Linked DNA regions of Homo sapiens: region 2 is linked to region 1. A link means that fine-mapping ties the variant in region 1 to the expression of a gene that starts in the linked region. Tissue or cell type: whole blood. Region 1 holds a variant in brackets; the other region holds the start of a gene. All regions are shown on one strand. Distances are between the middles of the regions.

Region 1 (7,832 bases):
GGCACGCACCATCACGCCCAGCTAATTTTTGTATTTTTAGTAGAGACGGGGTTTGACCATGTTGGCCAGGCTGGCCTCGAACTCCTGACCTCATGATCTGCCAGCCTCAGCCTCCCAAAGTGCTGGGAGTACAGGCGTGAGCCACCACGCCCGGCCCTACACATGTTCTTAAATCTGCACACAGTGGCCAGGCGCGGTGGCTCACGCCTGTAATCCCAACACTTTGGGAGGCCAAGGTGGGCCGATCACCTGAGGTCAGGAGTTCAAGACCAGCCTGGCCAACATGGTGAAACCCCCTTCTCTACTAAAAATACAAAAATTATGGCCAGATACAGTGGCTCACCCCTGTAATCCCAGCACTTTGGGATGCCAAGGCGGGCAGATCACCTGAGGTCAGGAGTTTGAGACCAGCCTGACCAACACGGAGAAACCCCGTCTCTACTAAAAATACAAAATTAGCCGGGCATGGTGGTGCATGCCTTTAATCCCAGCTACTCGGGAGGCTGAGGTGGGAGAATTGCTTGAAACTGGGAGGCAGAGGTTATGGTAAACCGAGATCACACCATTGCACTCCAGCCTGGGCAAAAAGAGTGAAACTCCTCCAAAAAAAATGAAAAGAACAGAACAATTAGCTGGGCATGGTGGTACATGCCTGTAATTCCAGCTACTTGGGAAGCGAGGCAGGAGAATCACTTGAACCCAAGAGAAGGAGGTTGCAGTGAGCTGAGATGGCGCCACTGCACTCCAGCCTGGGCAAGAGTGAGACTCCGTCTCAAAACAAAAACTAACAAAAAAACCTGCACACAGCATATGCACACCAATGGGGATAGGCCCACCCGGATGGGTTCACCTAGACAAGAACAAGTCTGGGGACAAATATGTCCCTCGATAAAGATGTACATAAAAATCATACAGACTTTGGCACACATACATTGCCCGGCTAACTGGGTTGTGAGCTCCTTGGAGGCAGGGAGAGGGAGTCACCCTCAAAGCCATTACTTTGCACACAACAGATGGTTGGTAAAAGTTTGATTAATTAAATGCAGAAATATGCCTGCACACACATGGGAATGCACACATACAACCACCCACCTAGACAGACAGATACACACACACACACACGTACACACACACACATCTGCTCACTCCCCCGCACCAGGAACCTCACAGCCTGGGTCCCCTCCTGCCACCACCTCCACCCTGCCCTGGCCCACTTGGCCTTCCTGTCTGAGGCAACCTCCTCCTCAGCCCACACCCCCAACTTCCTCTCCTGAGGTAACTGCCGCACCCACTCCCACGGAGGCCTCCAACCCAGGGATGCCCCCGCCGCCAGCCCTGCCCTGTTGCCTGGAGCCACAGGGCCCCTCTGTTCTGGCCACACAGTTCTCCCCAGACCAGGCTGGGGTCCCGGCGGTGGAGGCCTAGGCTAGCGCAGCAGCCCATGCTCAGGTACCACAGTGACTCCGGAAAGAAAGCATTTGCCCAGCGCTGAGGGGCATGTAGACGTGGCAAGGGGCCCATGACTTGGTCAGGGCTGTGTCCTGAGCCCACTGGGCGGCCTCTCCTCTCTTCCCCGCCCCTTCCATTGCCACGGCTCCAGGTGGGGCTGAGACCGGCGGAGGCAGCTTGGCGGGCAGGTCCTGGCTTGTGTCCGCCGCCTGCTATGCTCTGTCCCCTCCCAGCTGAGTCAGTGGCCGAGCCCCAGCGATCCCTCTTGACACCCTCAGGAGCAGAAGGCCTCAGCACGGCTGCACGGTGTGCATTCACTCTGTGGATACCTGTGTGCTCCACAACAGCAGTTTCCCTGGACTTCTGTGGCCAACGTGTGAGCCCACGTTCGGCCTCCCCTGTGGATTGGGGTGTGAGCCCACGTTCGGCCTCCCCTGTGGATTGGGGTGTGAGCCCACGTCCCTCTCTGTGCCCTGTTGTGTGGCTGTGTGGGTCCGAGTCTGGTGGGCATGTCTGCGTTGCGTGAGTCTGTGAGCTGTGTAGTTGCTGTGTGTCTTTGTGTCCTGTTGCAGTGTGATGCTGCATGGTGACTATATTGTCTGTGTGGTGTGTTCAGTGACTTTCTAGGTGACAGCGCCGTGTGGGGTGTGTACAGTATGCATTGTGCATTTCCTCCTGTGCTGTATGTGTGACTGGGCTGTGTGCTGTGGGGTGTCCCCTGGTGCCTTGGGGGCCACCAGGTGTGTGTGTCTGAGTGTGGATGGAGGCCGGGGGGACGTTCGGCAGAACTGAGCCTATTTCTGTCCTTCAGGCCTGCCTGAGCTGGGCCATGGGCATCAGCCCAGCGTCCTCAGCAGTGCCCCCTCCCTGAAGTCCCCTCTCCTACCAACCAGAGGCAGAATCTCCTACCAGAGTTAGGTAGGAGTTTGGTCTTCTCTGCTGTTTTGACACGGTGGGACAGACCCATTGGTCAAGAGGAGGGTCTGTCCATCTGTCCAGCTGTTCCAGTTCCAGACATG[T/C]GCCCACCTCCCCCAACCCCAAGGTGCTGGAGGGTGCTCAGGATACCAGGTGGCAGTGCCTGCGTCTCTGGACCCTGGCAGGGGACCCTGGCACCGACACGTGTTACCTGTAGGGGTCCAGTATGGGAGGACACCTTCGCAGGTGGCTCCAGCTCCCCTGGCAGCCGAGTTTCAGGGACCGGGAGAAGAGCCGTGAGGGAAGAAGGCTGACTCAACAGGCAGCCCAGCCAGCAGCTGCCCCACACGGAGGAGGAGGAAACACCTCGGCAGGGCCTGATGCAAAACCGGGCCTGGACTCCCAGCGCCCGGGGGTGCGCCCCCGCAGCCGACTGGAGAGGCCCAGCTTGGCCCCAGCTCCACTGAGCAGGCCCTCTAGAACGGGTAGCAGCCCCACCTTGCCCACAACGGGGCTGATAGGAACTCGCTTTGAAAGCAAGTTAGAAACCTTTCTTTTCCAGCCCCAAGGGGAATGGCAGGATGGCAGACTTTGCAGTTAGACCACCCTGTGCAGAGTCCCTGCTCTGCCAGTGGGTGTGTGATGTGACCTTAAGCAGGTCTCTTCCATTTCTTCTGATGCAAACTGTGGGTAGCAGAGTGCAAGGAGCCTATACTAAGGGAAGTGAAAGTGCCCGGTGCGAGCTGGCATAGTCGGGGTGAGGTGTCCCCACTCCAGCATAGCCTAATGCCCACGGCCATCTCAGCAGCTGCTGCCCTCTATATCCACATGCACTTCTGGGACATGCTGGCAGAGCAGCCCTCTCTGTCCCCTCTGCTGTCCTGAGCCCCATCTGTTTGAGGAGGCCTGAACTCTTCTAGTGCCAAGGTGAGGGTCCCACACCCTCTGTCTATGTGGAGCCCCCCTGAACTCACCCCATTCTACACCTAGATTCTGCCCACCCTGAGATTAGAAGGTTTGGGCCCTAGATTACATTGGCTTCAGGACCATGAACCTCCTGGGTTGTCTTGGGCACAAGAGGCCACACCAAAGCTTTCTGACTCCCCCCAAGTCCACTTCACTTCCCATGGCCTGCCCTGGCCCAACCCCCTCCCCTGAACCTAGGGCCATGGATTAAAGATTAGTGGGCTCCTCATAGACCCCTGGGAGAGGCAGGACAAGGGGTGGATTCTAAACAAAACCAGTCTGGGCACAGTGACTCATGCCTGTAATCCCAGTACTTTAAGAGGTCGAGGTGGGCGGATCACTCTAGGACAGGAGTTTGAGACCAGTCTGGCTAATATAGTGAAACCCCGTCTCTACTCAAAATACAAAAATTAACCGGGCATGGTGGCAGGTGCTTGCAGTCCCAGTTACTCGGGAGGCCGAGGCAGGAGAATCGCTTGAACCCAGGAGGCGGAGGTTGCAGTGAGCCGAGATCGCACCACTGCACTCCAGCCTGGGCAACACAGCGAGACTCCGTCTCAGAAAAGCAAACAAGGCTGGGCGTGGTAGCTTACACCTGTAATCCCAGCACTTTGGGAGGCCGAGACGGGTGGATCACGAGGTCAGGAGATCAAGACCATCCTGGCTAACACGGTGAAAACCCATCTCTACTAAAAATACAAAAAAAATTAGCTGGGCGTGGTGGCGGCTGCCTGTAGTCCCAGCTATTTCCCGAGTAGCTGAGGCAGGAGAATGGCATGAACCTGGGAGGTGGAGCTTGCAGTGAGCCGAGATCGCACCACTGCACTCCAGCCTGGGCGACAGAGCGAGACTCCGTCACAAAAAAAAAAAGAAAAGAAAAGAAAAGAAAACTAAACACCCACTCTTCCTTCCTGTAATCAGAACCGACTCCCACCACCACTGAGAGACAGAGGACCCTCCTCCACCTCAGAACCACAGTGGAGGCTTCCCTACTTATTTTTTGCAAATTAATCTTATTTTTCTCATCTGTTAAATGGGGGTAATCTCTCCTTAGAGGGTTTTCACTAAAATTCAGTGAGATCCTTGCAGACTTTTTTTTTTCTTTTTTTTAGATGGAGTCTTGCTCTGTCGCCCAGGCTGGCTTGGCTCACTGCAGCCTCCGCCTCCTGGGTTCAAGTGATTCTCATGCCTCAGCCTCCCGAGTAGCTGGCACTACAGGCGCCCGCCACCACGCCTGGCTAATTTTTGTATTTTGAGTAGAGATGGGGTTTCACCATGTTGGACAGGCTGGGCTCGAACTCCTGGTCTCATGTGATCTGCCTGCCTCAGCCTCCCAAAGTGCTAGGACTACAGGCGTGAGCCACCTTGCCCAGACCCCAGTACTCTTGATTAATGCATTTATGCACCCACACATGCAATACCCATGGAGCAGCTGCTGTGGGACCATTACTGTGATGCTGCCTCCTTCATTAAGGCCCTCAAAATGGAAGGAGAGTGGCCAAGAACATCCACACCCCTTCCTGCCATCCTGGTCCTGGCGCCCCCAAGGATGTTTCTCTGCCCTCCTCTCACCTCCTTAGCAGCTCTTCCTCCTGGAAGGCATGAAACTTCATTATCTGGTCTTCGGGTTTCTAAATTTCCCTTCCTTTCTCTGCTCTCCTGTCCTTCCTATAGCTGTGACTCCCTGACGCTGATACTTCCAGCCATCTCTCCTGCTGTGTCTCAACCTGCATTCCTCTGGCCTCTTCCCCACTTGAAACCTATTTCCAAGTTTCCACCTCTGTAACCAGCCCCCATCATCCTGGCCCCTGGCCTCCTGCTGCTTCCTGCCACCTCCAGATGCTGTCCACACTTCACTCCAGGTGCCCTCCCATCTGTGTGTCTCTGCTGTCCTCCCCCTGCCCAGGTCTCAGTCCCCGCTCAGCCTCTTCTGGAAGCCTCCTCTTCTCCTGCCTCCTTGCGGCCACACAAGGCCACTCTGGCCCTATGTTGCACAACTTTCAAACGTACTTTTCTTTGTCATCCTCTGGTTTGGAAGGTGCCAGCAGACAGCCAGGCCATCCCTCGGGCCCATTCATACATTTCTAAACCAGTCCAGTCCCCTTTAGACACGTCCTGAGATGGAAGTCTCACCACTTCCCAGGACAGCCTGGCCCTCAGCCTGACCCTCAGGATTGCTGCCCTTACTCTGGCTTTCTCCCCTTCGTCACCTATACCCGTAGAGCCTTAGCTGTGGGCTATTTCCTGTCCTTCAACACCCCTGGGCCTTCTGTGCTCCCTGTGGGAATACTTTTCCCCAGCTCCAGGACTAGCTCAGCCTCCTCCAGAGTTCAGTGCCCCTGCGCTGCAGCCAGTCTCTAGGCAACATCCCTCTGTTAAGAGGGACATTAAGAGGCAGGGTCCTAGAGGCCAGCAGATCTGGGTTAAAATCTGGCTCTGCCGCATGGTTCCCTGTGGCCTGGGATCAATGACAATCCCTGTAAGCCTCACTCTCTTCCTTTATGAAGTGGGGACAATAGCCATCTCACAGGCCTGCTGCTGTCAGGAGAGCTTGTTTTTCACCTCCGCGGCCATTCTCCTTTCGCATCACAGCACCTCTCATTTCCACTCCTGTGCTCCAGTGAGGCCATCGCACAGGGTGGCTCTGAGTGGGGGCTCTGGAGCCCAGCTGCTGGGTTTGAACCATAGTTCCACTCTTCCTACCTCTGTGACCCGGAGCAAATCACTACTTCTCTGCTTACTTCTTCATCTGTAAAATGGGATGATGGCACTTACCTTGTTGCAGGGCTGTTGTGAGGCTAAGATGGTATTTTATTACAAGGCCTAGCACAGAGTAAGCACTCGCTAACTGTTGGTGACTTTTTTTTTTTTTTTTTAAGAGACGGGGCCTTAGGCCGGGCATGGTGACTCACACCTGCAATCCCAGCACTTTGGGAGGCCGAGGCAGGCGGATCATGAGGTCAGGAGTTTGAGACCAGCCTGGCCAACATGACGAAACCTTGTCTCTACTGAAAATACAAAAATTAGCCGGGCATGGTGGCAGGCGCCTGTAATCCCAGCTACTCGGGAGGCTGAGGCAGGAGAATCGCTTGAATCCGGGAGGCGGAGGTTGCAGTGAGCTGAGATCATGCCATTGCATTCCAGCCTGGGTGACAAGAGCAAGACTCCATCTCAAAAAAAAAAAAAAAAACAAAACAAAAAAAAAGAGAGAGAGAGAGGGAGAGACGGGGTCTTGCTCTGTCACCCTTGACCTCCTGAGCTCAAGCTATCCTCCCATTTCAGTCTCTTGAGTAGTAGCTGGGGCTGCAGGTACGCACCATCATGCCCAGCTAATTTTATTTTTTAATTTTTTGTAGAGATGGGGTCTCACTTTGTTGCCGAGGCTGGTCTCAAACTCTTGGGCTCCCTCCCTCCTCCAGCCTTGGCCTCCCAAAGTGCTGGACACTGTGGCTGACCCTGTTGGTGACTTCTATGGCACAATTTTATGTCCTGTTTCCCCCAGGCAAATTTTAAATTCTGCTAGGCTAACGCAGGCCTTAAGCCTTTTTTCTATCTATTCTACTGTGGCTGTCTTTGGTTTATTTTTTAATTTTTATTTTTGAGACGGAGGCTTGCTCTGTCACCCAGGCTGGAGTGCAGTGGCGCGATCTCGGCTCACTGCAAGCTCCGCCTCCCGGGTTCATGCCACTCTCCTGCCTCAGCCTCCCAAGTAGCTGGGACTACAGGTGCACGCCACCATGCCCGGCTAAGTGCTTGTATTTTTATTAGAGACGGGGTTTCACCGTGTTAGCCAGGATGGTCTCGCTCTCCTGACCTCGTGATCCGCCTGCCTCAGCCTCCCAAAGTGCTGGGATTACAGGCGTGAGCCACCGCAACCGGCCTGTCTTCAGTATTGAATTTGTCCCCCCTCAACCAACTCTCGGATGGACCCAATATGCAAAACAGGTTTTTGAAAATGGAATTGCTGGGGCCAGGCGTAATGGCTTATGCCTGTAATCCCAGCACTTTGGGAGGCTGAGGCGGGTGGGTCACCTGAGGAGTTCGAGATCAGCCTGGCCAACATGGTAAAACCCCGTCTCTCCTAAAAATACAAATATTAGCCCAGCGTGGTGGCGGGCACCTGTAATCCCAGCTATTTGGGAGGCCGAGGCACGAGAATTACTTGAACTCAGGAGGCAGGCGTTATAGTGAGCTGAGATCGTGCCATTGCACTCCAGCTTGGGCAACGGAGTGATTCTGTCTCCAAAAAATAAATAAATAAGAAAGAAAGAAAAAAAAGAAAAGTAAATGGAACTGCTCTGAAGTGGGGAGAGGTCACCTCTGCCTTGCCCTGGAGAAGTCCCAGGCTTGCAGACCACAGCACTGCAGGGTCTGGGGTGAGCTGGCAGATGCCTGACCAGGGACCCCATGGCCAGCTGCTAGAGCATGTCCTCAAGGCCACGTTCAAGACCAAATCCTTGGCTAGTTCAACTGAAGTGATGCATGGACAGGGTTGGGAAAGG
Region 2 (7,832 bases), 110 kb after region 1:
TGAGACCAGCCTGAGCAACATAGTGAAACCCCATCTCTATGAAAAAATTAAAAAATTAGCCAGGCGTGATGGCACACACCTGTCTTCCCATCTACCCTGTCTCATAAAAAAAAAAAAAAAAAAAAAGCCAGGAGCGGTGGCTCATGCCTGTAATCCTAGCACTTTGGGAGACCGAGGCAGGTGGAACTCAGGAGTTCAAGACCAGCCTGGGCAACATGGCAAAACCCTGTCTCTAATAAAAATACAAAAAAATTAGCCGGGGCTGGGCGCGGTGTCTCACACCTGTAATCCCAGCACTTTGGGAGGCTGAGGCGGGCGGATCACCTGAGGTCAGGAGTTCAAGACCAGTCTGGTCAACATGGTGAAACCCCATCTCTACAAAAATACAAAAATTAGATGGGCGTGGTGGTACATGCCTATAATTCCAGCTACTTGGGAGGCTGAGGCATGAGAATCACTTGAACCTGGGAGGCAGAGGTTGCAGTGAGCCGAGATCATGCCACTGCACTCCAGCCTGGAAGATGAAGTGAGGCATGGGAATCACTTGAACCTGGGAGGCAGAGGTTGCAGTGAGCTGAGATCATGCCACTGCACTCCAGCCTGGATGACGAAGTAAGACTCTGTCTCAAAGAAAAAAAAAAGATGTGGCAAACTCTCTGCTTGAATATCTGCAATGATGGGTAACTCACTCCCTCACAAGGCAGCCCATTTTGTTTTTAGAAAGCTACATTATCTCCTATCAAACCAAAGTCTACCTTCTTGGAAATTATGTCATTTAATCCTGAGATGCCTTCTAGAATCACAGAGAACATCCAGTTTCCTTTCCCCATGACAATCTTCAAGTATTTGAATGAGGTATCATGTTCCCCCAGGCTCTTAGCCTTGGTCTTTTCAGTTCTTCTTCATGTGTCACAGTCCCAGAGGCAATTCAATATCACAGAGCAGAGAGACCTGGGTTTGAATTCCAGTCCTTCCTCTTACTTGCTGTGTGACCTTAAGCAAATAACTTAATTTCTCTGAATCTGTTTCTTCATAGGTATAATAGGGAAAATGATTCTCACCTCACAGGACAGTCATGAAGGTTACACTGGATAAAGTAAAAATACTAGCTAGCACTGAGCTCAAGATATACCAGGCCCTGAATAAAATGTCAGTCACTTTTTAGGACATATCCCAACTGGCAAATACCTCTCAAAGTAAATTAACTACACCAAGGAACTGGCTTCTTTCTTTTTTTTCTTTTCTTTTCTTTTTTTTTTTTTTGAGATGGAGTTTCACTTTTGTTGCCCAGGCTGGAGTGCAATGGCACGATCACAGCTCACCGCAACCTCCACCTCCTGGGTTCAAGCGATTTTCCTGCCTTAGTAGGAAAATCCCTCCTGAGTAGCTGGGACTACAGGCGCGTGCCACCATGCCCGGCTAATTTTTTTTGTATTTTTAGTAGAGATGGGGTTTCACCGTGTTAGCCAGGATGGTCTCAATCTCCTGACCTCGTGATCTGCCCACCTCAGCCTCCCAAAGTGCTGGGATTACAGGCGTGAGCCACCGCGCTCAGCCAGGAACTGGTTTCTAATAGCAACTGCCAGAACTTTGGCTTTTCAAGAGATGACAGCTAAGAAAGTACAACCTAAGGGTTTTGTGGGCCCAGCAATCTGCAATGGCAGCCTAAAGATACAGTGGAGCATCTGGAAAGGTGAGGTGGAAAGAAGAAAGGAAACAGAATAGATAACTAAACCAGTGACCCAAAGAAAACACAAGTATCACCAGATTACATGTTCTGTTTGACTTCCTCTCTGAGACTCAGAACTGCACATGTCAGCAACATTCCTTAATTTTTAAAAAGAGAGAAGAGAGTGGTCACGGAGGCCGTGTCTGTAGTCCCAGCTACTAGGAAGGCAGAGGTACGAGAATCCCTTGAGCTCAGGAGTTTGAGACCAGCCCAGGCAACAGAGTGAGACCCCATCTCAAAAAAATAAAAATAAAAGGAGAGGCCAGGTGCGGTGGCTCACACCTGTAATCCCAGCACTCTGGGAGGCCGAGGTCGGTGGATCACGAGGTCAGGAGTTCAAGACCAGCCTGGCCAAGATGGTGAAACCCCATCTCTACTAAAAATACAAAAATTAGCTGGGCATGGTGGCAGGCACCTGCAATCCCAGCTACTTGGGAGGCTGAAGCAGAGAATTGCTTGAACCCAGGAGGCTGAGGTTGCAGTGAGCTGAGATCGCGCCACTGCACTTCAGCCTGGGCAACAGAGCAAGACTCCATCTCAAAAAATAAATAAATAAATACATACATACATAAAGGAGAAAAAAATAAAAATAATTAAAGACCAAGTCATAGTCTAGATCTTCCTTAGCAGTTGGCCCAAGATCCACAAATGTTTGGCAGTGGGCTTCAAGATTTTCAGTTGTCTTTCCAGATCCTAAAGTCTAGGTGTGCAAAAACACCCTACATAAGATGCCCAATGAGTCAATACTGAACTCCTCCCGGCTAAAAAAAACTGTCAATTGTATGAAACTGGTAAATAGTTGTTAACATCATCATCATAATATTTACACGTGTTCTCTCTTTCCCTCGTGACCCTCAATGAAGGTGTCCCAGGCAGAAATATGGGCTACTGCTCAATTATTCGGCAGAGTTGATCCAAAAGCACTGTTCCTTCAAATTGAGATAAGACTCGAACAGAAGTGCTCCCATATAGGTCAAAAAAGGAAAGGAGAGCAGGACTCCAGCCTTAAAGCAGCATGATCACAAACTATGACGGAAAAGGTCATTTCCCACCTGCCAACGAAATACAACAACCTACAATGAAGAAACCTCAGTAAGTCTCAGACTTGGCCCAAAGGAGCCCAACTAGTTACTCCCTGGTCTGTTACAGAGGATCTGGCTATTACACTCAACAGCAAAAATTCAATTCAATCCCGCTAAAGATATAAGAATCACAAGGAAGAATAAGCCAGAACTCAAGACAGAAATAGCATTAAGTAGTTCCTTCAGTACAGTGAGCAGAAGCTGGCCACTCAACGACTCTAAAAGACACAGAAAAGCTTAGTAGGGACCACTGGGCATACCGGTGTCCTAGGTGGGGATTTCGTAACGTCTTTGAGTCAGAAGCTGCCCTCAAAATAGTTTCTTCTCAAAACGGTTTCAGGCTTTGTTAGAAAGGGAAGACTTCACTGCCACTTTACCCAGATCATCTACCCCATCCTTGGAATGAATGGGGAAGCTTCAGCCACCCTACCAGGCTCCTAAAATCACCAACTTGAGAGAAAAACTATAACGTTGCTCTACCAGTACTTCAGGAGGTTAAAGAAAGTCACAGAAGAAAAGAACTCTGGGGAAAACAGTCAAATTCGGCTATTAAGACATTAGTTACAGGCCCCTGTACCTCTCCTCTAGAAACCCTGGGAGTACACCCGCAGAGGAGAGAGAGCCCAAGCCACCAAGCAAAGTCAACCAATCTGGCAAAGGGGCGTCCCACTGCGGCTTTCAGTCCAAGAAGTGGATCCTGCTGGTTCGCAGTCTCTCTTCTATCTCCTCACTTCCTATTTACCCTTTGAAGTGGGTACTGAATAGCCCGTTCCCAAGCAGAGGCCCTTTGTATACGGGGTGCTACAGTCGCCTGGTGGAAACACCTTGGCAGAGTTGTTTGGTGCCAGGATGGGCCACTGAAGGCATCTGCTGTGGACACACACACACACACACACACACACACACACACACACACACAGAAAGAGAGAGAGAAAAACAGAAAGAGAGAGAGCGAGAAGCTAAGAGGGCAGGTCAGGTCGGCGTTGCCCTCCCAGCACTTACACCTGCCCCTTCTTCCTGACTCCGGCGCCAGATCAGATGTCAAACAAAAACTCCGCAAAAAAGTCCCATGATGGAATGACTTCCACCTCTCCCTCCGCAGAGCCTCCCCGGACTCCCACAGCCTCCCCCCGCGTCCCGACCAAACCCTCCGCCCCCACCCCGCCCCCGGACCACTCTGCCCTCCGCCCCGGCGAGGCCTGGCCCCTCTCGGGACACCCGGGGCCCCGAGGCGGGTAGGCTCAGGCCCCCAGGCCGGCAGGGCTGGAGCCGGCCCAGAGCGGGCGGCCCGTTCACCGGGGCTGCGGGAGCCGGTCCCCGCCTCGGCGCCCGCGGAGGGCAGGGGGCGGCGGTGACCCGTACCTGTCAGGTCTCTTCCCCCGACCGGCAGCGGCGCAACTTCAGGAGCCCATGTCCGTCCGGGGGGGGCGGCCCCTCTCCCGGGAAGGGGGGCGCGGATCCCGGGGAGGGGGCTGGGGGGCTCGAGCAGTTCTAGCCCCTTCCCATGCTCCCCGCCCGGCGCCTGGCCGGGGCCGGACAGCGCCTCCGCCCGCCCCTGCGCACCGCCTCACACCCGCGCTCACACACACTCACACTCCCTCGCGCGCTCTCACACACGCACTCCCCTCCCTCCTCCTCCTCTGTTTATCTCCTCCAGCTGTCTGGGGACCCAGGAGAAGCCCAGCAACGCGCCTGCGCCACGCAGTCTCCGCCTCCGCCCTGCGCCTCGCAGCCGGCGGGTACGCTACGAAGACTGCGCCCGGCCGCTTCCAGAATGGCTAGCCGGGCCCCCCCACTTACCCCCCCGCGCCCGGTCAACGTCTGCTGCCGGCGGCGCCCACTAACCTGCTAGTGGGGGAGCCCCGCACCGCCGTGGCCAATGGGCTTCGCCGCTTGCGGGACCGGCAGCCAGTGGGCGGGCGGGAAAGCTGGGCTAAGCCCTGGGGCACCCTGGGAGTCGTAGTTTTTCGCCGTCGAGGAGTTCCTGCAGAGCGGGCTCACCCCGCCCGGTTGCCATTAGTTACCCGGACGCACCTCCCACCCCACCACCGGGTAAAACGCTCCTCACACCGCTTCTGGGACACCCGCCCACACGCTCGCCCACTGAACCCCAGGTCCCCTCACAGCCCCTTAAGAGCTCCTAAGACTTCCTCTCAGCCCCCGAATTCTGGGACCTCTCAGGCTAGGGCCCCGGGGGGCTCCTCAGCCCACTCCTTCCTGCTCTGGGGGGCTGCTGAAGTGGCACAGTCCTCACTGACGTCTCCTGGGCCTTAAGGAAGAGAATGAAAGAGAATCGGGCCTACGCTGAGTAGCCTGGAGAGGAGTCAGCCACACACACTCTGGGTGCCCTCGGGGTGATGGGAGCGACTAGGTCCATCTGACCCTAGCGGAGTCACTGCTGCTCCCACCTCTGAGGAAGAGACGCAGTTCCAGCCTTGTGGAGTCCCGGGTCTGATGGAGGAGAGACCCTCCTCTTTATTAAGGAAGTTCCCAAGGTGACAAGGGTGGCACTAAGCCTATCTTCTTAAGGCAGAGACCAGGCCCCACCCGTGAAACCTCAAGTCAGAAAGGGAAGACGTGTCACCTTCTGACAAAGGAAACTTGTCACCCATAGGGTGCCATTTGTCAGATACTAACAATAATTCACTTTTATTCGCACTGGATTGGGTACAGTCTCTTAGCTAGGTACTATTGCTGTCTGTGTTTTGCAGAAAAGGAAAGCTGAAGCAGAAAGGCTAAAAGCAACTTGCCCCCGGGGTCCTGATAAGTTGGCAAATTGGGAATTAGACCCAGATCTGCCTGACACCAGAGTCTGAGCCTTTTAACACTGCCTGTCTTTCCTGTGAAAACCAGACAGCACCCGCTCTCAGTAAGGACTGAATATATGTATTTGGCATTTATAGTGTTTATCACTCCATGTGTCGCTTGTTTTTTTTTTTTTTTTTTTTTTTTTTTTCCAATTCTGCTCACATCATGAGTACGAATTTGTCTGTGAATACCTGAATACTCCCAGAGACAAAGGTAGTATTCTAATTGCTGGTGATTTCTCCGCAAGGGAGATTTCTCCCCATTTAGAGGAGTAAGAACCTATCCTTGTGAAACCGCTCACAAAGCCTTTTATGCCTTTCTCCTAAAAATATTGTGGGTCATTCCCCCTGAACTCTCCACCACAGCTGTTCTACTGAATATAAAAAATCATAGACTTTGGGACTAGAAGAAAGCTTTGAGATCATCTATCTGCAGCTCCCCAGGTTCAGGCTGCAACCTTGGTTAGGGTCATTGGGTTAATTAAACTGAATAATATCTAACATTTATTGAATACTTACCATGGGAGATAAGTGCTACTAGTGAATTAAGAAATACTCCCGGGCTGGGCGCGGTGGCTCACGCCTGTAATCCCAGCACTTTGGGAGGCAGAGGCGGGCGGATCACGAGATCAGGAGATAGAGACCACCTGGCTAACACGGTGAAACCCCATCTCTACTAAAAATACAAAAAAATTAGCCGGGCGTGATGGTGGGCGCCTGTAGAACCAGCTACTCGGGAGGCTGAGGCAGGAGAATGGCGTGAACCCGGGAGGCGCAGCTTGCAGTGAGCCGAGATCGCGTCACTGCACTCCAGCCTGGGCGACAGAGCGAGACTCCGTCTCAAAAAAAAAAAAAAAAAAAAAAGTAAAAGAAAAAGAAACACTCCCGGCCGGGCGCGGTGGCTCACGCCTGTAATACCAGCACTTTGGGAGGCCAAGGGCGGGTGGATCGCCTGAGGTCGGGAGTTCAAGACCAGCCTGGCCAGCATGGTGAAACCCCGTCTCTACTAAAAATACAAAAATTAGCCGGGCGTGGTGGCGCGTGCCTGTAATCCCAGCTACTCAGGAGGCTGAGGCAGGAGAATCACTTGAATCCTAGAGGCGAAGGTTGCAGTGAGCCGAGGTCGTGCCACTGCACTCCAGCCTGAGCAACAGAGAGAGACTCCATCTCAAAAAAAGAAAAAAGAAAAGAAAGAAAGACAGACTCCCACAATCACATAGCTAGGAAGTGGTACAGTTGGGATTAAAGCCTACACTATTCAAATCCAGAACCCTCATTTTTAAATCATTTTAGCATCCTGTGTTTTTGGCAGAGACCACCCCCCCCCCCACTTTTTTCTTCTTTTTTTGAGACAGAGTCTTGCTCTGTCGCCCAGGCTGGAGTGCAGTGGGGCAATCTCTGCTCACTGCAAGCTCTGCCTCCCGGGTTCACACCATTCTCCTGCCTAAGCCTCCCGAGTAGCTGGGACTACAGGCGCCCGCCACCAGTTTGTCATTTCATTTAGTACAGACGGGGTTTCACCGTACTAGCCAGGATAGTCTCGATCTCCTGACCTCGTGATCCACCCGCCTCTGCCTCCCAAAGTGCTGTCACTACAGACATGAGCCACCGCGCCCGGCCAGAGAACCCCCATTTTAAAGTCTTGTTTAATGCTGGCAAGGTCACAGAGGATCTTAGATATACTGATAGAGAAGAGTGGGTGATGTTTCTGTGACTCCTAGCACAGTCTATGGCACATAGCAGAAACTCAGTAAATATTTGTTGTCAGAATGAACTTTCGTTGGTAGAGACTGATGACAGGAAGAAGACTATTTCTTTTGAGACGGAGTCTTGCTCTGTCGCCCAGGCTGGAGTATAGTGGTGCAATCTCGGCTCACTGCAACCTCTGCCTCCTGGGTTCAAGCGATTCTCCTGTCTCAGCCTCCCGAGTAGCTGGGACTACAGGCACATGCCACGACGCCCGGCTAATTTTTGTATTTTTAGTAGAGATAGGGTTTCACCATAATTGGTCAGGCTGGTCTCAAACTCCTGATCGCAGGTGATCCACCTGCCTTGGCCTCTCAAAGTGCTGGGATTAGAGGCATGAGCCACCTCGCCCCACCAGGAAGAAGACTATTAACAACTGCAGTTACTATTTATTATTTTCTAATAGATACCACTCGTACTCTTACACTTGCTTGAGTTTCTCTCTTTCTCACTTCCTCTCTCTCCATA

What was found. PIP is the estimated chance that this variant, and not a neighbour inherited with it, causes the effect.
Region 2: WDTC1 starts here. The variant in region 1 is fine-mapped to the expression of WDTC1 in whole blood (TOPMed, PIP above 0.99).

Annotation. Positions count from the first base shown.
Region 1 is chr1:27,336,894-27,344,725 of GRCh38, reverse strand. SYTL1 (synaptotagmin like 1) reads right to left here and starts at 2,704. Exons shown (of 15, transcript NM_001193308.2): 1 at 2,576-2,704. RefSeq lists enhancers at 1,364-1,453, 1,452-2,069, 2,244-2,293, 2,824-3,083. The variant T/C (reference allele first, on the strand shown) is at 2,469.
Region 2 is chr1:27,231,293-27,239,124 of GRCh38, reverse strand. It overlaps WDTC1 (WD and tetratricopeptide repeats 1), which reads right to left and starts at 4,493. Exons shown (of 16, transcript NM_001276252.2): 1 at 4,174-4,493. WDTC1-DT (WDTC1 divergent transcript) reads left to right here and starts at 4,696. Exons shown (of 3, transcript XR_947117.2): 1 at 4,696-4,863; 2 at 5,523-5,680. RefSeq lists silencers at 3,814-3,863, 4,024-4,073, 4,264-4,413, 4,614-4,673.